Linked DNA regions of Homo sapiens: regions 1 and 2 are each linked to region 3. The links come from fine-mapping of genetic effects on gene expression. A gene starts in region 3. Each other region holds a variant in brackets. All regions are shown on one strand. Distances are from middle to middle. Region 1 has its middle 14 kb from the start of ALDH3B2. Region 2 holds the start of ALDH3B2 (aldehyde dehydrogenase 3 family member B2). Region 3 holds the start of ACY3 (aminoacylase 3).

What was found.
Region 1: its variant is fine-mapped to the expression of ACY3 in spleen (GTEx, PIP 0.92).
Region 2: its variant is fine-mapped to the expression of ACY3 in whole blood (TOPMed, PIP above 0.99).

What each region holds. Positions count from the first base shown.
Region 1 is chr11:67,684,934-67,693,275 of GRCh38, forward strand. No RefSeq gene overlaps it. Among named protein-coding and RNA genes, the nearest start is that of ALDH3B2, 14 kb to the left of the region's middle. The variant G/T (reference allele first, on the strand shown) is at 5,100.
Region 2 is chr11:67,670,330-67,678,671 of GRCh38, forward strand. ALDH3B2 (aldehyde dehydrogenase 3 family member B2) reads right to left here and starts at 4,294. Exons shown (of 10, transcript NM_001393402.2): 1 at 4,107-4,294. The variant C/G (reference allele first, on the strand shown) is at 3,753.
Region 3 is chr11:67,647,005-67,655,346 of GRCh38, forward strand. It overlaps ACY3 (aminoacylase 3), which reads right to left and starts at 3,726. Exons shown (of 8, transcript NM_080658.2): 1 at 3,579-3,726; 2 at 512-585; 3 at 1-59. The coding sequence starts at 39. RefSeq lists enhancers at 1,108-1,187, 1,598-2,120, 1,648-2,067, 3,798-3,877, 3,948-4,007.

The DNA of each region.
Region 1 (8,342 bases), 38 kb after region 3:
GCCACAGCCTCCCAAGTAGCTGGGATTACAGGTACCTGCCACCATGGCAGGATAATTTTTGTATTTTCCGTAGAGGCAGGGTTTCATCATGTTGGCCAGGCTGGTCTCGAATTCCTGACCTCAGGTGATCTGCCTGCCTTGGCCTCCTGAAGTGCTGGAATTACAGGCATGAGCCTGTAATTTTTCTTTTTCTTTTTCTCTCTCTCTTTTTTTTTTTTTTTTTTTTTTGAGACAGTCTTGCTTTGTCACCCAGGCGGGAGTGCAGTGGCATGATCTCAGCTCACTGCAACCTCCACCTCCCAGATTCAGGCAATTCTCTGGTCTCAGCCTCCCAAGTAGCTGGGATTACAGGCACACAGCACCATGCCTGGCTAATTTTTTTTTTTTTGAGACGGAGTTTCACTCTATCACCCAGGCTGGAATGCAGTGGCACAATCTTGGCTCACTGCAACCTCCGCCTCCCAGGTTCAAGTGATTCTCCTGCCTCAGCCTCCCAAGTAGCTGGGATTACAGATGTGTTCCACCATGCCCAGCTAATTTTTGTATTTTTAGTAGAGGCGTGATTTCACCATACTGTAGCGGGATTGATAAGGAATCAGAGAGACCAACGGGGTTGAGAAGGATATTTATTATTTAGGTGTACTGGCCCAGTCAGATTAATATCCAAAGGACTGAGCCCTGAACAAAGAGTTAAGTTACCTTTTAAGGTAGATCTGTGCAGGGGGAAGCATATTACAGAAGTGAGAAAAAAAGACAGTTATTTAATTAATTGAGACATGCATTATATCATTTCTTACTTTTCAAGGAAAAACATGTTTTACAACTTGAGTTTATCTGTCTAGTGACCTTGCAGCTGCACAGCTAGAGAAACGGTCTTCACAATGCCTGGGAAAGGGGAAGAGATGAGGCTCCCTAGCCACAGAAAAACAGGCAGTTAATTTTTAAAGGACTCCAGCTCTTTCTCTTTCTCAGGGGGAACTGTGTTTTCTTATATGTAACTGAGTTTTTGCTTACACGTTCTTTAATTTCTTTTAATTCCTGTTTCATTTTCCCATCTTTGGTGCTTTTTATAACAAAGGTGTTAATAGAAAGCACCACTATTTGCCACCTCTTCGTGGAGCTGAGCTGCTTCTTCTACTGGCAGTGGCTGATATTTGGTTAATGCCATCAACTGCACGGTAGTGAGTCAGGTTACTATTGCCTCTATAGTTGACTGAATACTCTTAATAAGCAGCGGTAAAAGGCAAGAGAGGATGAGGCAGATGCCAAGAATAAGTAAGAACCCACCAATGAGGGTTTTGAATTTTCCAAAAGTTGAGAACCATCCTCCAAACAAGGAATCCGGGGACCACCCGGACCATGTCTGAACTTGAACATGGGCCAGCTTGCGCATTTCAGCTGTGATTTCCATGACAGCTCGGCCATTATTATCGATTTCTAGGCAAAGGTTGGTTAAACTAAATTTTCCACATACTCCTCCTTCTGAGACTAAGAGGTAACCTAAAGCCAATCTATTTTGATATATAGCATTTCTCATTTGTGTTGCTTGTATTGCTAGTAAATCTAGTGCCCTTGACGTTTCATTGGTTATAATTTCTTTGTAATTTCTAGGACTGCCTGCAACCTTATGATGTGGTTGAGCATATAGATGGGGGTATGTTACCCCATGCGCCCAGGTAGCTGGCCCATAATATTTAATGATTCTTTCAGGAGGCCATTTATTATCTTTCCTGTTTTCTAATACTGGTCAGGCTAGTCTCGAACTGATTTTCTTATATAAATATTTAGAGAGATATATTTTCCTCTAGGCATCATATCACTCCACTCCACAAGTTTTTGATATTTTCATTATTGTTTAATATTAACATTTGCTAATTTCCTTTATAATTTCTTAGTTAATCTATACATTATGTAGCAGCATATTTTTTGCCTTTCAAATGTATGGCTGCTGATATTGTTTTATTATCCATTTTAACTTGATTACCTTATAGTCAAAGAATCTCATATATATAGCCAGATTCTTGAAATTTCCTTTTTTTATTTTTTATCTTTTTTGAGACAGAGTCTCACTCTCTCGCCCAGGCTGGAGTGCAGTGGCATGATCTCAGGTCACTTCAACCTCTGCCTCCCGGGTTCAAGTGATTCTCCTGCCTCAGCCTCCCGAGTAGCTAGAACTACAGGCACGTGCCACCACGTCTGGCTAAGTTTTGTATTTTTAGTAGAGATGGGGTTTCACCATGTTGGCCAGGCTGGTCTCAAACTCCTGATCTCAGGTGATCCACGTGACTCAGCCTCTCAATGTGCAGGGATTATAGGCATAAGCCACTGTGCCTGGCCTGAAATTTCTTAAGACTTGCTTTGGTGCATGGTATGTGATCAATTTTATGACTGTTTCATGTGTGCTCAAAAGCACATGCCTCCTTCTGCCACATATATATATATATATATATATATATATATATATATATATATATATGTATGTATGTATTTCCATTAGCTCAATTTTGCTAATTCTGTTGTTCAAATCTTTTATCATATTACTATTTTGCCAGTTTGACCTATTTGTTTCTGAAGGAAGCGTGGATTGGGCAAATTTTCCTCCTAATTCTGTCCATGTTTTATTTCTATATTTTGAGGACATGCTGTTAGGTAGTGCTATAGACTGAATGTTTTTATCTCCTTTAAATTCCCATGTTGCAACCCTAACCCCCAATATGATGGTATTAAGAGGTTGGACCTTAGGGAGGTAATCAGGTTGAGATGAGGTCCTGAAGGTGGGGTCCCGGATGGAGTTTTCTTCCTTATAAGAAAAGGAAGAGACCAGGTGCGGTGGCTCACACCTGTAATCCCAGCACTTTGGGAGGCCAAGGCGGGCAGATCACCTGAGGTCGGGTGTTTGAGACCAGCTTGGCCAACATAGTGAAACCCTATCTCTACTAAAAATACAAAAATTAGCCAGGCATGGTGGTGGGTGCCTGTAATCCTAGCTACTTGGGAGGCTGAGGCAGGAGAATCCCTTGAACCCAGGAGGTAGAGGTTGCTGTGAGCCGAGATCGGGCCCCTGCACTCCAGCCTGGGCAACAGAGTGAGACTCTGTCTCAGAAAAAAAAAAAAAAAAAAAAGAAAGAAAAGGAAGAGACACCAGATATCTCTCTGTCTCTCTCTCTCTCTCTCACTCACTCTCTCTCTCTCTCTCTGTACCATATAAGGAGACAGCAAGAAGGCAGCCTTTGGAAAGCCAGGAGGAGGGCCCTCACCAGGAACCAAATCAGTCAGCACCTTGATCTTGGACTTCCCAGCCTTCAGACTATGAAAAATAAATTTCTGTTTAAGCCACCTAGTCTGTAGTATTTTAGTACAGCAGCCTGAACTGACTAATACAGTATTTGTGAGGGCTCTGATTTTTTCTAAGTGTTGGCAAGGATGTGGAGCAATTGGAATCCTCAGACGCTGCTGGTGGAGATGGGGAATCGTGTGCCTGCTATGGAAAACAGCGCGGTGGCTCCTCAAAAGTTAAACATTGAATTGCCATGTGACCTAGCAATTGTGTTCCCAGGTATATACCCAAAAGAATTGAAAATAAGCATTCAAACAAATACTTGTACACAAATGTTTACAGCAGTGCCATTCACAATGGCCCAAATGTGAAAACAATCCAAGGGTCCATCACAGATAAACAAAATGTGGCCCATCCAGACAACGCAATATTAGCCATAAAAACAAATGGAGGTGGAGCACGGTGGCTCACACCTGTAATCCCAGCACTTTGAGAGGCCAAGGCAGGTGGATCACCTGAGGTCAGGAGTTTGAGACCAGCCTGACCAACATGGTGAAACCCTGTCTCTACTAAAAATACAAAAATTAGCCGGGTGTGGTGGCACATGCCTATAGTTCCAGCTACTTGGGAGGCTGAGGCAGGAGAATCACTTGAACCTGGGAGGCAGAGGTTGCAGGGAGCTGAGATCACACCACTGCACTCCAGTCTGGGTGACAGAGCGAGACTCCATCTCAAAACAAAACAAAACAAATGGAGTTTGACTGTGAACCCAAAACTGCTCTGAAAAACGAAGTCTATGTTTGAAAAAAGGATGAAGTATGGACACATGCTGCAACCTGGCTTAACCTGGAGAACACTGTGCTAAGTGAAAGAAGCCAGGCACATACTGTACGGTCCTATTTGTATGAAATGGCCAGCATGGGCAAATCCCCGGAGGTAGAAAGCAGATTGGCAGTTGCCAGGGGATGGAGGTGTGGGGAATGGGGAGTGATTGCTTATGGGCACACAGTGTTCTAGAGTGTTGGAGTGTTGGAGTGTTGAAAAAGCCCCCAAGGGCCATCCAGCCTCCATCTTCTGACACCACTTTTGCTTCGTGGCTCTCAAGACAAGGGGAAAATTTAGTGTTTCTTAGAAACTTAACAGGATGCGGTAAGGTCAGGCACTTCCAAGAGCTGACCCATCAGTCAGCCCTTACTCATCCCCAAGCAGAGGTATAGTGGTATTGTGGAGGGCCTTTGCTGGACACTCTGCCAAATAATTGGACCTTACTTGTACTCTAGTTGAACTGGCTATCCCTTTTACCCTGGCAATTCATCAACCAGAAAAACAACAACAACAACAAAAAACACGACATCGTAAAACAAGAGAAGCCAGTCTTGGGTCCTTTGACCCCCATGTTTATTTAGATGGAACTAGCATTCCACAAGGTATACCAAATAAATTCAAAGCTAGAGATCAAATAGCCACGGGGTTCAAATCCCTCCTCCCACAAATAACAATAAAAACATAGGGACATCAGCAGAAGAATGTAAGTAGGGTAATCTATACATTTTATAAGGGGACAATCCAACATCTTTCCTAGGGGCAGTTTTAATTTTTAATAAAGCAATAGGAAGACGTTTAGTTCATGGCAAGCAAGTCATTAGGACTGATTTAGTTACATGATTTTTAAGAGTTTGATTTATCCTTTTTACTCCTCCCGAAGAGGATGGATGCCAAGGAATGTGATATTCCCACTTTATGTCTAGTACTTAGGGCAGTACTAGATAATAACACGTGCAGTAAAATGGGTTTCATTGTGTGAATTAATATTTTTTATTAA[G/T]CTAAACCTAGGTACAATATGTTTAATTAAGGCTTTGACTGCATTACTGGCAGTTACACTTGAAAAAACAATGGCTTTTACCCAGTGGGTAAAATGATCTACTATTACTAATAAATATTTTAGGCCACCAATTGGGGGCATTTTACTATAGTTAATTGGAACACTTTGAAATGGCCATCGTCCTGGATTTTTTCCTCTAAGGGGTAACTTTTTTTAAGGCTTGTTTATTTGTGTTTTTTTTTTTTTTTTTTTTTTTTGCAAATTAAATAACTGTAACTTGTTTGGCTAAAGTATAAACTTTAATGCATCCATAAACAGAACTGCATCACACATAGCTTGGGGATCCTAATTACTTCCCTGATGTAGTTGGGACAAAATTTCTCTTATAAGATGCTTGGATAACATTTCTCTTTGATCTGGAAGTATCCATCTTCCTTTTGAATTTTTTTTGAGCTCTAATCTTTTCTAACTTTTTCGTCTTGAGAGAAAATAGGAACTACAATAGGAGAAGGGAGACAAGGGGTTAAATGAAAAATGCACGTCTCAGAAACAGCAGCCTGCTTTGCTATTTGGTCTGCAAGATTGTTTCCTCGACTTTTAAAAGAAAAGTTAGGTTGGTGTCCTGGAACATGGACAATGGCTATTTCTTCAGGTAACTGAAGATTATTAAAAACATGAACAATTAGTGTTTCACGAGGAAGTTCTTTACCTTTACTGTTAATTAGTCCTTGCTTAGCCCCAATTTTCCCAAATGTATGAGATACCCCAAAGGCATATTTAGAGTCAGTATAGATGGTTTTTACCTGGTTCTGTAAATATTTTAGGGCGTGACTGTGAATAACTCGCAAGGTTGGGCAGACTAACTATTTGATAATCTTCCTGATTTTACTTCTTTTAAGATCTTCCTATAATTATAGCATATCCATTATGTCATGTCCCTTCAATTACCCGGGAGGAGACATCTATAAATAGATGTCGCTCTGTTTTAAAAGGGGTCTCTACTAAATCTGGCCTAACTTTTGTATGATAGTCAATTAAATCTAACCACAAATGTTCTTTTTTTGAGCAGTAGGTTTCCTGTTAAGAAGCTTGCTGGATTTCAGGAATTATCTGTTAAATCATCTTTTTTTTTAATAGAATAGCCTCATATTTTAAGATTCTAGAATCAGTAAGCCATCTCCCAGCTTTTTGGTTTAGGATCACCTTAACTTGGTGAGGGGTGCTCACTGTTAGGTACCCTTCAAAAGTTAATTTCTTACTTTCTTCAACTAGTATTGCTGTGGCTGCTAGAGACTGAATACACGGAGGCCATCTACTGGCAACTGGATCTAATGCTTTTGATAGAAAGGCTACTGGTTGTTGACCGCCTCCATGTTCTTTAGTGACCACCCTACTCTATTGTCTACATTCACAAAAAGATGACATGATTTTCTGAAGAGGGTAAGGCTAGGATGGGAGCAGTGATGAGTCTTTCTTTTAATTTCTCCACTTGATTAACTTCTTTAGAAGTCCATATAAGGGGATGCGTTTCCTCTTTAGTTAATTTCTTATATAAGAGCTTACTTTTTAATGCATATGAGTCCATCCATAAACGACAGTACCCAACTAATCCCAGGAATTTTTTAAGTTCTTGTTTGGTTCGGGGCAAGGGTAGAGACATGATTTTCTCAATTTTGGGGGGTCTTATTTTTCTTTTATCTGCACTTATTAAATGGCCTAGATATTTAACTTTAGGTTCTACATATTGAAGCTTTTCTTTTGAAACCCATAACCCTTTATCTTGTAGGTGGTTAAGAACTTTTGTAGAAAGTCCAGCTACCTTTTCTATCTCTTCCTTAGATGTAAGAATATTATCTACATATTGAAGAAAGCATAACTGTTTTGGGACAATAATTTTTTTTAAATACTTGACAAAAAAGATTGGGAAAATCTGTAAATCCTTGGGGTAAAAACTGTCCACCTGTATTGTTGCTTTTGCCTAAATAGGGGTCCTCCCACTCAAAGGCAAATATATTTTGGCTGTCTTTAGCCAAAGGACATGCCTAAAATGTATCTTTTAAGTCTATTACTGTGAACCACTGATGACTATATGGAATTTTACTAAGAATAGTGTAGGGGTTAGGCCCAACAGGATGAGTGGTTTGAACTATTTGATTGATAGCTCTAAGATTTTGCACTAATTGGTATGATTCATCTGATTTTTTTGACTGGTAACATTGGAGTATTGTATGGAGACATAGAAGGTTCAATAGCCCATCTTTAATAAGTCTTTTGATTACAGGCTTTAACCCTATTCTTCCTTCTAAAGGAATAGGGTATTGCTTTCTTTTTACTATTTCCCCTGGAGTCTTTAACTGAACATGTGTTGGAGGAATCTGTAAATTTCCCTGATTACCTTCCCTTGACCAGACAGCTGGATGAATGTATTTTTTATCTGCTATAGCTAACAAATTTAAAGAGGTTAGGAAACCTTTTGGACTAACTTGTAAACCTATACCTAACTTTAACGTTAAATCTCTTTCTAACAAATTGGCTTTTGCTTTAGGAATTAATAAAAATTGTATATAAACTAATCAATTTATATATTTAACTTCTGTATTTTCTAAAACTTTTGCCTTGAATCCTTCCCCTTTAACCCCAGAAACTGTTAATTCCTTTGGGGAACAAACTAAATGAGCTGAAGGAAAACAGACAGGTGAATGGGCTTCTCCTGAGTCGACTAAAAAGGTGATTAATTTATGTCTGGGTCCCACCTCTAAATTTATCAAGGGCTCTTGGTGGGACTCAAAATAGAAAAGTCAGAGCCCCTGACCCCCCTATTCTTCTTTAAAAGTGGTCACAAGTGGGGGAGCTTTTTCTGCCTTTTCTAACTTGGGACATTCCCTTTTAAAACGACCTGGTCTCCCGCATCTGTAACATCTGTCTTTTCCTTCCTCCCTACCAAGCCCAAAGCTTCTTTGCTTCTCCTCTTTATTTTCACATCCACAGCTCCTATGACACTTACTTTGACATTTTTTTCTAAAATACTGACCTGGCCGGGCGCGATGGCTCACACCTGTAATCCCAGCACTTTGGGAGGCCGAGGCGGGCAGATCACGAGGTCAGGAGATCCAGACCGTCCTGGCTAACACGTGAAACCCCGTCTCTACTAAAAATACAAAAAATTAGCTGGGTGTGGTGGCGTGGGCCTGTGGTCCCAGCTACTCAGGAGGCTGAGGCAGGAGAATGGCGTGAACCTGGGAG
Region 2 (8,342 bases), 23 kb after region 3:
CTGTGTGTGTATGGGTGTCTGTGTCCATGTGTGTCGTGTGTGTGTCTGCGTGTGGACTTGAGTAATCTCAGCCCTCAGCTGCAGGTCACAGGGCCGTGCCCAGGGCTGCTGCCTCAGACCCGCATTGCTGAGGGCAGTGGGGGTGGGTGGTGAGCAGGGCCTTGGCATCCCCAGTGAGTGTCCTGGAGGCCAGTGGCCCCATCTGCACTTGCACCGCACCAGGCATTCTTGTCATATGTGATGCAGGGACAGTGCTCGCCCATGGACAGAGCCAGCTGAACCAATGGCAGAAGTCCGTGTCTTGTGAATGACAAGATGAGGAGAGCAGCCCCTGCCCGGCTCAGGTCCCAGCTGAAGAATGTGAGGAGACAGGAAGCCATGCTGGGCACCTTCCTGGCCACACCTGCAGATGCCGCCTCCCTCCCCTGGGCAGCGTGATCACATTCCTGGCACAGGACCCCCACACTCAGTGTGCGGCCCCCCTGCATGAGGGCCTGGAGGAGGACGCAGCATACAGGGCTCTGCAAATATTCATCTACTGTCTTTGCTCAAGCCCTTGGGCTAGAACCTGGGTGGGGCCTGGGCCCTTCTCTGGTAGCGGGCGGTATTGGCCTGGAGCGCTTCCAGGTCCCAGGTTCCAGGGCCCTGACCCAAAGCTTTGCCTGGCATGCGAGCGTCAGCAGCCTCCACCCGGCGCTCAAGCAGCTCCTGGCCACATCAGCTCAGCTCTAACCTCTTCCATGGCTCCCTGGTGCCTTTGGAGGGATGACCGCCTCCGGCCTGAATCAAGACCCGGATTGGAGGAGTCTGGGATGAGCTATGGCACACAGGTGTCCTGATGTTCATCCCAGGAACCTGGCCTCAGCGTGGTCACAGCTTTCCCAGGTGAGGCAGGTGGGGCAGAGGAACCCCTGCCCTTTCTGGGCAGTCGTCGCCTGTCCTCACATGTGCACATCTGGTGCTCGGTGAAATAATCACGGAGCCAGCAGCATCTGCCTGACGGATGAGGAAACAGATGGGGGCTGGAGCTGGACCCAAGCCCTGCCTCTCATGCAAGGTGCTTTCTTGTCTCGCCCACCTGCTGCAGGGCAGGGGTCCGGGCGCTTGCTGGGGCAGGGCTGACTGGTGTGAAAGGAAAATATCTTGGACCCCCAAAATCAGTAAGCTAAAAGGAAAATTCAAGCTGGAAACTGATCAGGGCCAACCTGCCTCCCCCCCCTTTTTTTTTTTTTTTGGAACGGAGTTTCGCTCTTGTTGCCCAGGCTGGAGTGCAATGCTGCGATCTCAGCTCACCGCAACCTCTGCCTCCCAGGTTCAAGTAATTCTTCTGCCTCAACCTCCCGAGTAGCTGGGATTACAGGCATGCACCACCACGCCCAAATAATTTTGTATTTTTAGTAGAGATGGGGTTTCTCCATGTTGAGGCTGGTCTTGAACTCCTGACCGCAGGTGATCCGCCCACCTTGGCCTCCCAAAGTGCTGGGATTACAGGCATGAGCCACCGTGCGGGCCCCTGCCTCTCATTTTATTCACAGCCACCCCTCTGCCCACCGAGATAGATGCACATTCTGATTGCCTCCTTTGGAAAGGCTCATCAGAAACTCAAAAGAATGCAGTCTCTCACCTACCTGTGACCTGGAAGCTGCCCCAACCCTCACCCCCACCCCCTGCTTCAAGCTGTCCCTGCCTTTCTGGATGGAACCGATGTACTTCATATATATATATATATATATATATATATATATATATATATATATATGTATGTATGTATTTTGTGTGTGTGTGTGTGTGTGTGTGTGTGTGTGTATATATATATGTATTTTTTTTTTTTTTTTGAGACAGACTTTCTCTCTTGTTGCCCAGGCCAGAGTGCAGTGGTGGGATCTCAGCTCACTGCAATCTCCATCTCCCGGATTCAAGCGATTCTCCTGCCTCAGCCTCCCGAATAGCTGAATAGCTGGGATTATAGGTGCCTGCCACCATGCCCGGCTAATTTTATATTTGTAGTAGAGACGGGGTTTCACCATGTTGGTCAGGCTGGTCTCAAACTCCCGACCTCAGGTGATCCCTGCCTTGGCCTCCCAAAGTGCTAGGATTACAGGCGTGAGCCACCGTGCCTGGCCTTCTTACATATATTGATTGCTGTCTCCTGTCTCCCTAAAGTGTGTAAACCAAGCTGTGTCCCGACCACCTTGGGCACATGCTGTCAGGACATCCCCAGGCTGTGTCACAGGTGCACGTCCTCAACCTTGGCAAAATTAACTTTTTTTTTTTTTTAAGATGGAGTCTCATTCTGTCACCCAGGCTGGAGTGCAACTGGCATGATCTCGGCTCACTGCAACCTCTGCCTCCCAGGTTCAAATGATTCTCCTGCCTCAGCCTCCCGAGTAGCTGGTATTATAGGCATGCGCCCCCATGCCCAGCTAATTTTTATAATTTTTAGTAGGGACAGGATTTCACCATGTTGGCCAGGCTGGTTTCAAACTCCTGTCCTCAAGTGATGCACCTGCCTCAGCCTCCTAAAGTGCTGGGATTACAGGCATGAGTCACCACGCCTGGCCACAAAATGAACTTTCTTTCTTTCTTTTCTTTTCTTTTCTTTTCTTTTTTTTTTTTTTTGAGACGGAGTCTCACTCTGTTGCCCAGGCTGGAGTGCAGTGGTGCGATCTCAGCTCACTGCAAACTCCGCCTCCCGGGTTCACGTCATTCTCCTGCCTCAGCCTCCCGAGTAGCTGGGACTACAGGTGCCCGCCACCACACCCAGCTTATTTTTTGTGTTTTTAGTAGAGACGGGGTTTCACCGTGCTAGCCAGGATGGTCTCGATCTCCTGACATCGTGATCCGCCCGCCTCGGCCTCCCAAAGTGCTGGGATTACAGGCAAAATAAACTTTATAAATTAACTGAGACCCGTCTCAGATTTTCTGGGTTTACACTGGGGACCTCTGGCTGCTCACCAGGCAGTTCCTGACTGGACCTGGGTCCCATAGGTGACCACCCCAGACTTGGCCAGCCCCCATGGAGCTCACAGTCTACACACGGAACAATGACACCGGAAACAATATCATTACAAACATGATCGGTGGGCCAGGGCTTCTTCCAGAGGTGGCCAGAGACCCACCCCTGGCTCTGACTGCTGCGGGGAAGCCGTAGGGGAGGGCCTCTTGGAGGGCAGGTGATCTGGACAGAGGGACCAACGTGTGCAAAAGCCCTGTGGGGGCAGATGCTGAGAAATAAGACACACAGGAAGGTGGAGGCCTGATGGGACCTGTCATATGGAGAGGGGACTCATTCCCTTGGCAGTGGCCATGCCTGGTGCAGGGCCCAGAAAGAAGTCAGAGCTGGCATCTGGGGCCAGGTAGCTGGCATGCACATCTCATCTGAGCCTCACAGCTATTATTATTACCCAGTTGGAAGGACAGGGAAACCGAGGCTCCCAGAGACGACTTGATTTGCCCTCCTCACAGCCTCAGTGCGAGGAGGGAGGCCCCCCAGCCCCTCTCCTCACACCAGCCTTGTGACACCATGTGCCAATGTGTGCCTCGTGCCTTTCACTGTCTTCTCAACATCTTCCTGCAGCTTCCAGACTTTCTAAATGCGAATGTAGTATTTCTAGAACCAGAAACAAGCAATGCATGTTGCTTTTAACATCTGAAACCAAAGATCCGACTTTCGCTTCAACTGCCAAGAATCTCTCTGCTTCCAATCCCCGATTCTCCGGCACCTCCTGATCACAGCCCTGGTGCCCCCGACC[C/G]AATCCTTGTCTGTCCACAGAGCTGCCTTCTCCTCTAACCTGGGAGCTCCTCAAAGGGAGGACGGGGTCTGTCCCCATCCCTGGGGCTCCTGGGGAACAGGCTTCATTTCTGTGGCTGCTTCCCAGGAGCCTGCCAAAGGGCAAAGTGAGGCTCAGAAGACACCAGCACCCACCTCCCTCTCCTGAGCAAGCCCCGTACCCATGGCCCCTGCAGCCATAGGCCCCTTGGTGGGCTTGCCCCCTGACCCACGGGCCATGGGCACACATCCCCTTCCCTCCATGCCCCTGGTTCCCACCAGTGTCCTTTACCCTGAGCTCCCTCTGCCCGCCCCTCACCCCTGTGGCCCCACATAACCCAGCGTGGGCTCTGCCCCTGGGTCCTTCGCTGCACCTCCACTCCCTTTCTTGGACATGCTGCCTCCAGATGCGCAGGCTCTGCTCCTACCCCCAGGCCTCAGCCCTGCTCTGCTGACTGCGATCCTCCCAGGAGACTGGCAGCTCCCAAACCAACTCCCGTGCCCACGCCTGGCAATGGGGTAATCAATGGGGTGATGCTCAGTGTTACCCAACAGGCGTGGGGCAGGGCTGCACCTCCCAATTCCCATGCCTACCCTTGTCTCACTGCCAGGACCTATAGCTGCTCGGTGTCTGCCCTGTTCTTCCAGGGCCCTGCCCCCAGGGACCACACTGCACAGCCGGCTTGGGAACAGGTTAGACAAGTCAAGGCTGTCTGAGGCTTTGCTCTGTGTTTCCTGGAATGGGCTAGCAGGGAGTTACCTGATCAGGAAAAAAGAACCCCAGGGGAAGGTCACAGGATGAAAATATCAGCAGGATCCTGGTGGCAAATGCTGCCTTCGCCAGGAAGTCCTCCCAGGCCCCAGCCACAGTGGTCCCATGCCCCCCATGGCCCCTCCTAGGGTCTCTATGCTAAATCTTCATCTCCCTCCTCTCCTGTCCTCACTCTTCAGGCTTCACAGGTCAAGATGAGCAACTGTGGCTCTATTTCCACTCTCAGTGTGCCCAGCTGGCATACTCAGGGCAGAGGAAGGGGCTCAGATCTTTGCAGAGAGACCCTTGATGGGCGACGGCACCTGTAGCTCTAGGATGGCGCATTGTTCATTGGTTTATTTATTTACTGTGCAACCGTGGGTAGGTTACTTAACGTCTCTGAGCCTTTCGGAAGTAACAATAACACCTAATTGCCATGGTTCTTGAGAGGGTCACAGAGGGAGACGTGAGAATGGAAAAGGCAGATCACAGCTCCTGGCACAAAATCAGTGCCCCTCAATGTTGCCCGCTAATGTTTCCACAAGTATTTGCTGAGCACCTTCTAGGTTCCAGGGAGCAGAATGAGCTCAGGTCCTGCCACTGTCCTTCATGGATGGCCTGACTCTGTCCCCACCCCACCTTCCCCCAAGCCTGAGACCAAGGACACGCCCTGCTGAGGGCTGTAGAGAGTCTCTTGGCAGAGTGTGCAGCCCTGTGGGCAGGAGGGACATCTGAGATAACCCTTGGTTGTGACTGGAGACAGCCCAGCGGAGGCCACAGCCTGAGACCAAGCCCTGGCCCTGGAATCTTCGGTAGCTAAAGATGTAAATGCCAATGTGACACCAGGAAGGGACCTCGGGATGGGGAAGGGAATACAGGGCAGAATGCTAAGGCCCATCTAAGAGCAGCAGATGGGTTATGGCCACTGGGGAGGCCCACTGCCTCCAAACCACTGAATTGTACACTGTAAATGGGTGAGTTGTATGGGATGTGAATGCTATCTCAATAAGCTGTTTTGTTTTGTTTTGTTAAACTGAACTGACAAGAAGCCTGAATAGACGTAAATAAATTAAAATATGCTCAACCTCAGTAGCAATTGTTAAAATGTAAAATAGGTCGGGTGCGGTGGCTCATGCCTGTAATCCCAGCACTTTGGGAGGCCGAAGCTGGTGGATCACTTGAGGTTAGGAGTTCCAGAACAGCCTGGCCAACATGGTGAAACCCTGTCTCTACTAAAAATACAAAAAATTAGCCAGGCGTGGTGGCATGTGCCTGTAATCCCAGCTACTCGGGAGGCTGAGGCAGGAGAATTGCTGGAACCTAGGAAGCAGAGGTTGCAGTGAGCTGAGAGCACACCATTGCACTCCAGCCTGGGCAACAAGAGAAAAATGAAATTATATCAGGCATGTTCTTAGACCACGGTGGAATAAAACTGGAAATCAACTCCAAAAAGAACCTTCAAAACCATGCAAATAACTGGAAATTAAATAACCTGCTCTTGAATGAGCATTGGGTCAAAAACAAAATCAAGATGGAAATTAAAAAATTCTTCAAACTGAATGACAACAGTGACACAACCTATCAAAACCTCTGGGATACAGCTAAGGCTGTGCTAAGAGGAAAGTTCATAGCCCTAAATGCCTACATCAAAAAGTCTGAAAGAGCACAGACAATCTAAGATCACACCTCAAGGAACAGAGGAACGAGAACAATCCAAACCCAAACCAAGCAGAAGAAAGGAAATAACCAAGATTAGAGCAGAACTAAATGAAATTGAAACAGAAAAAATATACAAAAGGTAAATGAAACAAAAACTTGTTCTTTGAAAAGATAAATAAAATTGATAGATCATTTGCAAGATTAACCAAGAAAAGAAGAGAGAAAATCCTAATAAACTCACTGAGAAATGAAACAGGAGATATTACAACTGACACCACTGAAATATAAAAGAGCATTCAAGGCTATGGTGAACACCTTTACACACATAAACTAGAAAACCTAGAAGCAATGGTTACATTCCTGGAAAAATACAACCCCCCTAGTTTAAATCAGGAAGAATTAGATACCCTGAACAGGCCAATAACAAGCAGCGGGATGGAAGTGGTAATTTTAAAATTACCAACAAAAAAAAAGTCCAGGACCAGAAGGATTCACAGCAGAATTTTACCAGACAGTCAAAGAAGAATTGGTACCAATCCTTTTGACACTATTCCACAAGATAGAGAAAGAAGGAGCCCTCCCTAATTCATTCTATGAAGCCAGCATCATCCTAATACCAAAACCGGGAAAGGACACAACCAAAAAAGGAAATGACAGACTGATATCCTTGATGAACATAGATGCTAAAATCCTTAACAATATACTAGCTAACCGAATTCAACACCATATCAAAAAGATAATCCTCCATGATCAAGTGGGTTTCATACCAGAGATGCAGGGGTGGTTTAACGTAGGAGGGTCAATAAATGTGATGCATCACATAACCAGAATTAAAAATGAAAATCACATGATCATCTCAATAGATGCAGAAAAAGCATTTGACAAAATCCAGCATCCTTTTATGATTAAAACCCTCAGCAAAATCAGTATACAAGGGACATATCTTAATGTAATAAAAGCCATCTATGACAAAACCACAGCCAACATAATACTGAACGGGAAAAAGTTGAAAGGCTTCCCGCAGAGAACCGGAACAAGACAAGGATGCCCACTCTCACCACTCCTCTTCAACATATTACTGGCAGTCCTAGCCAGAGCAATCAGATGAGAAAAAGAAATAGGGGCATCTGAATCGATAAAGAGGAAGTCAAACTGTCCCTGTTTGCTGATGATATAATTGTTTACCTTGAAAACCCTGAGGACTCCTCCAGAAAGATCCTAAAACTGATAAAAGAATTCAGCAAAGTTTCTGGATACAAAATTAATGTACACAAATCAGTAGCTCTTCTATCCACCAACAGCGACCAAGCAGAGAATCAAATCAAGAATTCAATCCCTTTGACGATAGCAAAAAAACAAACAAAAAAACAAAACAAAACAACTTTAGAATATACCTAAAAAAGAAGTCGAAAGACCTCTAAAGGAAAACTACAAAACACTGCTAAAAGAAATCATAGATGACACAAACAAATGGAAACACATCCCATGCTCATGGATGGGTAGAATCAGTATTGTGAAGATGGCCATACTGCCAAAAGCAATCTACAAATTCAACACAATCTCCATCAAAACACCACCATCTTTCTTCACAGAGTTAGAAAAAACAATTCTAAACTTCATATGGAACCAAAAAAGAGCCCGCACAGCAAAAGCAAGACTAAGCCAAAAGAACAAATCTGGAGGCATCATACTACCTACCTGATTTCAAACTATACTCTAAGGCCATAGTCACCAAAACAGTGACATATCGGTGTAAAACTAGGCACACAGACCAATGGAACAGAATAGAGAACCCAGAAATAAACCCAAATACTTACAGGCAGCTGATCTTCAACAAATAAACAAAAACATAAAGTGGGGAAAGGACACCCTTTTCAACAAATGGTCCTGGGATAATTGGCTAGCCACATGTAGGAGAATGCAACTGGATCCTCATCTCTCACCTTACACAAAAATCAACTCAGGATGGATTAAGGACTTAAACCCAAGAGCTGAAACTATACAAATTCTAGGAGATGACATTGGAAAAACCCTTCTAGACATTGGCTTAGGCAAGGATTTCATGACCAAAGAAACTATGATATATATATACACACACACAGTACTGTGTATATATATACTATGGTACATATATATATATATACACTATGATATATATATACA
Region 3 (8,342 bases):
GCGACGCAGGGGCTCCCGGGGCACAGGCAGTGAGCACATGCTGGTGTGGGGTGCAGAACCTGGGGGTGGGCATACTTAGGAGACCCTGGCCCCGATGCAAGGGATCTGGGCTCAGGGCAAGGATGGCGGTGGGAGGCTCCACAGGGCAGCCACCTGTCAAGAGGTGTGGACAGCTGGGAGTGTCTCAGCTGTGTCCCACCTGCACCCCCAGTGGCCCTTTCTCTGAGGAGACAATTTTCCTGCTCCTTTGGAGAAAAGAAGTTTCTTTTTCCTAAATTGAGAAGAGGGGCCCAACTGTTCAGGAAGATGGGTTCACCAAGGCACACTCCCTATAGGAAGAGGACTGCGCTCCTTTTTATAGACAGGGAAACTGAGGCACAGCGTGGGGAGTGGAAAGTGTCACCAGAGTTAGCTGTGGAGTGTCTGGGTTCTAGGCAACAGCCTCGCCTTCCTGCCCCTCCTGCTTGCTCCTCCCAGCTGGTGCAGGGGTCTCAGGTCAGGGGGTACTTACCGCTGATGCGGATCTGGGCTTCCCGGGCCACCAGGACTGGCGTCTAACTCGCAGACAGGCTGGTATTCATGGGCCTGGAGATCCACAGATGGGAAGTTTTGTGGCAAGCTGGCAGACAGCAGGGGGTGGGTGGGACGGGCTGAGGTTCATGCAGCCAAAGGTCGGAGTGCTGGGGTCTGCTCCACTGCTCCTGCCCCGCCCGCCCCACGCTGCTACTTGTGCTGCCACGGCCCAACGAGTCCAGGTCCTGCGGGCAAGTTCCTGCCCCTGCCCTTCGTCCTTCTGCTGGGCCCCAGAGGGGCCACCTTCCTTAACACTACTAAGAGGTACACCCGCAGTGGGGTGGTGACTTGGTTTTGGTCACCACCAGAGCAGGCTATTGAAAGTTACTATAGAGGTGTCACCTTGATGGCCACCAAGATGACAAGCTGCCCCTCCTTCACCACCTCGGCAACATGCCTCTGTCCTTGCAGCCCGGAGAGGGCTGTGGTCACTCCTGAGTCGCCCTTACCCAAAGGTGCCATGTGGAGCCCCAGTTTTACAGCTCTTTGTTGCTTTAAGCAAAATTTTAAAATGTTTGATCCGGGATTTCAGTCATTTTCAAGGACAGTGTAACTCAGATGACTCGGTTTGCCCTGTTTTGGGAACAACCCTCAGGCTCATTTTATAGATGTGAAAACTGAGGCTCAGAAAATTGTCTGCAGGCACACAAGCCCTAGAGGCAGGCTGCAGGTGGCCCACAGAACCCTAGGGGCAGACTGTTCAGCGGCACACAGAGCCCTAGAGGCGGGCTGCAGGTGGCGCACAGAGCCCTAGAGGCGGGCTGTAGGTGGCACTCAGTGCGTCCAATGTGGCTCCATCCCCTCCTGCTGCCTCTCAAGAGCAAAGTGGGGAAGGATGAAGGTGAGGTCCCCTGCACTCAGCCCTGGGGCCTCTACCTCCCACCAGGCTCAGCTGTCTGCTGGGAGGAGCTGAGGCCAGTTCCGAAGTCACTGGGGAGTGAGGCAAGCTGCTCCGCCAGGGCCTGCTGGATGCCAGGTGCTGGGACCCTGAGCTGGAGCCTCCCCCAGGCATCGATCCTGGGCCTTCTTTACCACCACACTGGGTCTCCCCGGGCCAGTCCAGCCCTGCTCCAGATGCCAGGCCCACCAGCCTGGGGGGCTCTGGGTGGCCAGGACCCTCTAAGTTACACCCTCTCGGAAGCTGCCCCAGATCACACTCAGCTCTGTGTGGCCTGGGCTCTCCTGCCCTCCACACCCAAGGCTTCGTGAGCTCAGAGCATGGCGATTGTGGGGACAGGGGATTTGTCATCCTGGCTCCCATCAGGGCAGCTGGGATCTTGACAGGGTGTCAAGAGGGGTGGATGGAGTGTGAGGCTGAGCCCCCAGTGGGCCGGGGCTCCCTATGAGCCCCCTCCAGGGGCCACTCCTCCTGGCACCTGGAGCCTCAGCAAAGGGAGGGCAGAGACTGCCATTAGGGGGCCATGCCATGCCATCAACTCCTGTATCCGGCCCAGCCCTGGGGGCAGCTGTCACCGGCTCCATTTTGCAGGTGTGGACTGAAGCTCTAGGGGTTGGGTGACTTGACTGAGTCCTTGGCAGGTGGTGGGAGAGGGAGTCAGCAGAGGAGCCTGTCGGCCTGGGTCTGTTCCTTCCTTGCTTGGGGTAGGGGTCTCAGGGACCCCCATGCTGCTTTATGAGTCCCAGGCCATGGTCTTTGTTGGAAGGCCCCCCCAACCCCCACAGAGGCTGGGATCCTGCTGACTCGGTGTGGTACCTCTCAGGAAGGAAGGGCCTCCGTGGCAGACCTAGCTATTTTGGGGGCTGCTGGGGGCCAGGGTGCTTCCTGCCACAAGGTGCTGGGCCCCCAAGTTTAGGGAGAACAGCAGTAGGGGTGCTGGAAAGTTTCACTTCCCTTGGCTGGGGTCCAGCTTCTGCATTTCAGTGAGTGTTTATGGAACAGAACGGGGTCCAGGAACCCTCAGAAACAGCAGCCCCCAGTCCTGGCAGTGTGTGCGCGTGTGTGCATGTGTGTGCATGCATGTGTGCATCTGTACATGTGTGCGTGTGCATGAGAGCATGTGTGTGCGTGTGTGCACTCACATGTGTACGTGACAGCATGCGTGTGTGCGTGCGTGTGTACATGTGTGTGCATGTGCATGAGTATTGTGTGCATGTGTGCATGTATGTGTACATGTGTGCGTGTGTGCATGAGAGCATGTGTGCGTGTGTGCGCATGTGTGACAGCATGCATGTGTGCGTGTGTACGTGTGTGCATGTGCATGAGAGTATTGTGTGCATGTGTGCATGCATGTGTGTGTACATGTGTGCGTGTGTGCATGAGAGTGTGTGTGCATGTGTGTGCATGTGTGCATGTGCTTGAGAGCGTGTGTGCGTGCATGTGCGTGAGCATGTGTGCGTGTGTGTGTGTTGTGTGCACACGTGTGACCTGGCTCTGGCCCCACCTCCCTGACAGGCTGTGTGACCTGGAGAGATTCAGTGCCCTCTCTGGGCCTTGGCTCCACCCTGTGAAAGTCCTGGCCAAGGGCAGCTGTGGGGAGTGAGGAACAAAGGGCGGGCACAAGCTTGAAAATGGGCACATGGAGACCCCAGCATGAGTGAGGGCAGAGGATGGTGATGTCATGGGCATCATCACGGGGGCCAATTTCCTCACTGCAGTTGGGGAAACTGAGACCCAGAGAGGGGTCAGAGCTGTGGTTCCCCCCTGTGTCAGCATCCAATTAGATCATGCCTCCCAGCATCACCTCATTGCAAGATGCAATCAGATCACGCCTCATTACCCTATGCTTATAAAACCTGCCCCAGCCCTCAGCTCGGGGAGACACTGCTTTGGGAGCTGTCTAGGTGTTCTCCTTACTTGTTGCAAGAAATAAAATCCCCTATTAAATCCTCTTTAGTTAACACCCGCCAAGCAACTGAGCCCACCCGTTGTGTGGGTAACAAAACTCTGGCGACCCAGATGGGGCCGACTGGGATTCTGATCCTAACTTCTTGAGGCTCACTAAGGTAAAGCAGTGGGCCGCGGCACCTTCCCCGGGCGAACTCACCCACGTGGCCCCAGAGGGTTGAGGGTGACTCCCGGGGATCTTCTGCTTGCTGCGTGGCCCGTGGGGCTGTCACTCCGCCCTACCCCCGAAACAGCGGAAGCAGCTGCCTGGAGCTTTTGTTCTGTGCTGCTCCTTCAGGGAAGAAAGTGGACTTTGCCCCGTGGGTTGACTGAAAGGGTAAATTCTTTGGACCTAGCAGTGGGATCTCTAGACTTCAGCGCAGGGCACCTCTGCTTTCGGTTTCTGTCTGGCTCTACGTGCCGTGGGGGATTGAGAGGCATCTCTGGCCAGGCCAAGGGCAACCCGGATCCCGGATCTGGGTAGACAACAGTGGGACTAGTTTTGGGAATTCGTTTTTTTTTTTTTGAGACAGAGTCTGGCTCTGTCACCCAAGCTGGGGTGCAGTGGCGCGATCTCGGCTCACTGCAAGCTCCACCTCCCGGGTTCACGCCATTCTCCTGCCTCAGCTTCCTGAGTAGCTGGGACCACAGGCGCCCGCCACCACGCCCGGCTAATTTTTTGCATTTTTAGTAGAGACGGGGTTTCACCGTGTTAGCCAGGATGGTCTCGATCTCTTGACCTCGTGATCCGCCCGCCTCGGCCTCCCAAAGTGCTGAGATTACAGGCGTGAGCCACCGCGCCCAGCATGAGAATTTGTTCTTTTTTAGAGAAACAGAATTTTTCACAGGAGGCTGAGCTGCTCCATCTCCCAGAGCCCCTACTTGCCATACCCCGGGTTACCAGAAACAGGAGCTCTGCCATTTGATGAAAAAAATACTTTTTTCAGATAAATGTTTTTGTCATATCATCACACAAAGCGGGTAAAGTTGTATATATATACATACAACTTTTTACAAATATGTGATCATATGTACAAAGGCTAGAAGGAAATATACAGAAAAATATGTATTAAAATACTGGTTTTTTTTCATTGTTTTATAAGATACTCTACAAAACATTACAATGAGGTAGGACTATTTTAGTGCTAGAGAATCTCATTAAATGAATTTGTTCAAGAGCTTCTTTGTCAGCTGGGTGCAGTGGCTCACACCTGTAACCCCAACACTTTGGGAGGCCAAGGGGGGCAGATTGCTTGAGCCTAGGTGTTCAAGACCAGCCTGGGCAACATAGGGAGACCCTGTCTCTACCAAAAAAAAAAAAAAAATTAGGGTGGGCGCGGTGGCTCACACCTATAATCCCAGCACTTTGGGAGGCTGAGGCGAGTGGATCACCTGATGTCAGGAGTGTAAGACCAGCCTGGGCAACATGGCAAAACCCCGTCTGTACTAAAAATACAAAATTTATCCAGGCATGGTGGTGGGTGCCTGTAATCCCAGCTACTTGGGAGGCTGAGGCATGAGGCAGAGGTTGCAGTGAGCCGAGATCATGCCATTGCACTACAGCCTGGGCGACAAGAGCGAAACTCTGTCTCAAAAAAAAAAAAAAAAAAAAATTAGCCAGGTGGTGGCACACACAGCTGTGGCCCCAGCTACTCAGGAGGCTGAGGCGGGAGAATCACTTGAGCACGGGGAGTTGGAGGTAATCGTACCGTGAGTACAGTGAGCCGTTATCGTATGGCTGCATTCCAGGCTAGACAACACAGTGAGACCTTGTCTCAAAAGAAAATAAATAAATAAATAAATAAATAAATAAATAAATAAATAAATAAAGAGCTTCTTTGTCAATATCCTTTTGTGGGTATACATCATAGTCCCACAGTACTTCTTCAACCCAGGGAGATAAATGTGTATTAGTCTGAAGACCCAGGAGAGAATCTTCAAGACTTGGCACTGTCACTGATGATGATCTGCTTCCTTACATTATGACAAATGTATTCCCAGCTCCGGCTTGTTCTGCCTCATTAAGAGAATATTTGAAGACATTATTCATGATAGCAGCATCAGCATTTTGCAGAAGAAACCCTGGGGACAGATGTCTGCATGAAGCACCTTTATTCTGTGAATAAACTGGTATTTTTTAATGACCATTTCCTGCAACTGGCAAAAGTCTCCGTTCAGTTCTACTCCACAGGGTTGCACTGCTAAGCTATAAGATCACCCCATAAAGACTGTGCTGAGCCTGGAGCTGACGTCAGCCACAGCCTTTCCTGATTGATCAGGGAGTGCATGAAGATAAATGAACTTCAATTCCATGAGGGAGAAGGAACGAGCAATCGGTCTAAAGGTTCTGTTTGGTGTGAACCACCCAGTAGTTTCTGCTCATTTTCCCTTTGTCACATAATGAATCAATGAAGTCTTTATCACAAAGGAATGCGTCAGCGTGAATGGTGGGTTCTGGCTGCTGCTGTAGTTTTTGAAGGGTTAGATGTTCTGAGGAAAGCATGGTTTCTAGAGGCAAGCAATTCTGAAGGTCTTCTGCAGTGGGTTTTTTTTTTTTTTAATTTTGAGACAAGGTCCGGCTCTGTCACCCAGGCTGGAGTGCAGTGGCTCGACTGTGGCTCACTGCAACCTCCAACTTCCAGGTTCAAGCAGTCCTCCCATCTCAGCCTCCCAAGTAGCTGAAACTACAGGCACGCACCCAGCTAATTTTTTTTTTGAGATGGGGTCTTGCTATGTTGTCCAGTCTGGTCTCAAACTCCTGAGCTCAAGTGATCCACCCCCTTCAGCCTCCTAAAGTGCTGAGATTACAGGCATAAGCCACCACACCCAACCTTTCTGCTGTGTTTTTAAACACAATGTCTTTATTTCCTTCAGTGAATTCATCAAAATCTCGGGCAGTTTGCATCTGCTGGAGCAGTGCCGGGCGGTCGGCAGAGCCACAGTATAGAGCAGTTACAAGATTTCCTGCCTTGCCGAGTGAAATCTATGCCTTCCAATTTTTTTTAATTAATTAATTTTTAAAAAATTAGATTGGTACAAAAGTAATTGCAGTTTTTGCCATTACTTTCAATGGCAAAAACAGCGGTTACTTTTGAACCAACCTAATATTATAGAGACAGGGTTTCACCATCTTACCTAGGTTGGTCTCGAACTCCTAAGCTCAAGTGATCCACCCACCTCGGCCTCCCAAAGCGTGGTGATTATAGGCATGAGCCACCATGCCCGCCCCTCCCCACCAATATATTTTTAAAACTAGTTGAGTGTGGGCCAAGAGTTGTGGGATCTGTGTCACCACCAATCCCGCCTCTAAGCTGCTGGGTGGGTAATATGGGAAAACAGTAATTGTAGCAGGACTCCAGTGGCAGAAGCCATGCGGATAAACTACAAAAAGCAGAAGGGACACTGGGGATGCTGACATCTCCATTGGTTGAGATTACCCTTAAGGTATTGAGCAACTGTGGCCAGGTCCAGGAAGGGCAAAAAAAAAACAAAAAACAAAAAACAAAAAGGCAACACAAGACAAGAAGCCATCGAGTCTCTTGGCTACAACCAGCCAGTACACAAGAAACAGTTCACTGCGGCCAGGCGTGGTGGCTCATGTCCGTAATCCCAGCACTTTGGGAGGCTGAGGCGGGAGGATCACCTGAGGTCAGGAGTTCAAGACCAGCGTGGCCAACATGGCTAACCCTGTCTCTACTAAAAATATAAAAAATTAGCCAGGCATGGTGGTGGGCACTTGTAATCCCAACTACTCGGGAGGCTGAAGCAGGAGAATCGCTTCAACCCAGGAAGCGAAGGTTGTAAGCTGATATCGCGCCATTGCACTCTAGCCTGTGCGACAAGAGCAAAACTCTTTCTTGAAAAAAACAAAAAACAAAAAAACAAAACAGTTCACTGGAGATGATCAGCCATAAGTAAGATCCCTAGGGACCCCACTGCCCGGCCAAAGGGCCTCCCGCCCTTGAGAACACAACAGTGTGCATATTGTAAACAAGAGGGCCATTGGGTACTAGAGTGTCCTAACTGTCCCCAGTGGGTAGGGAAAGAAACTTCCCCGTCAATCAGCCCACCAGATGCTACAGTTTGCTAATAGTGACCAGAAGTGATGGGACTTGGGGACTCCTCTATGATCTGGGAACCCCTAGATCGGGTAACAATTGCTGTGGGAGAGACTCACGGGTTTTCCGACACTAGAGCCAAATTTTTGCCTGTCTCCTTTCTACCGTGTTCTTCCTAAAATTTAGGAAAGGGCTTCTGCTGTATGGGAGAGATAAATTTTAGCTAAAATTGTTAGTTGGACGGAGACAGAGTTGGAACTGTCTTTTAAGTAGTGAATTTTACCTGACCCATGGCTAAACCTTTAAAAGTTAAAGCTATAGGATCGTTATTTGTATCTGGTAGTATGTACACGTCCGGTTATATTTGGCTATGGTACCGAATTGGCTTATAAAGAAATGAGTACTCATAAACTAAGCAAATAAGACCAAGTGCTTTTCAAGTTCACATGACAGTAATCTTTTGGTGAATGGAACTAGTCTAAAATTGTTGGTTTGATGGGAATGGTGTGCCTTCTGAAATGTAACTTAAAGGTTCTTACTTTTTTTTTTTTTTTTTTGAGACGGAGTCTCGCTCTGTCGCCCAGGCTGGAGTGCAGTGGCGTGATCTCGGCTCACTGCAAGCTCTGCCTCCCGGGTTCACGCCATTCTCCTTCCTCAGCCTCCCGAGTAGCTGGGACTACAGGCGCCTGCCACCACGCCCGGCTAATTTTTTGTATTTTTTTTTTTTTTTTAGTAGAGATGGGGTTTCACTGTGTTAGCCAGGATGGTCTTGATCTCCTGACCTCGTGATCTGCCCACCTCGGCCTCCTAAAGTGCTGGGATTACAGGCGTGAGCCACAGCATCCGGCCTTAAAGGTTCTTACTTT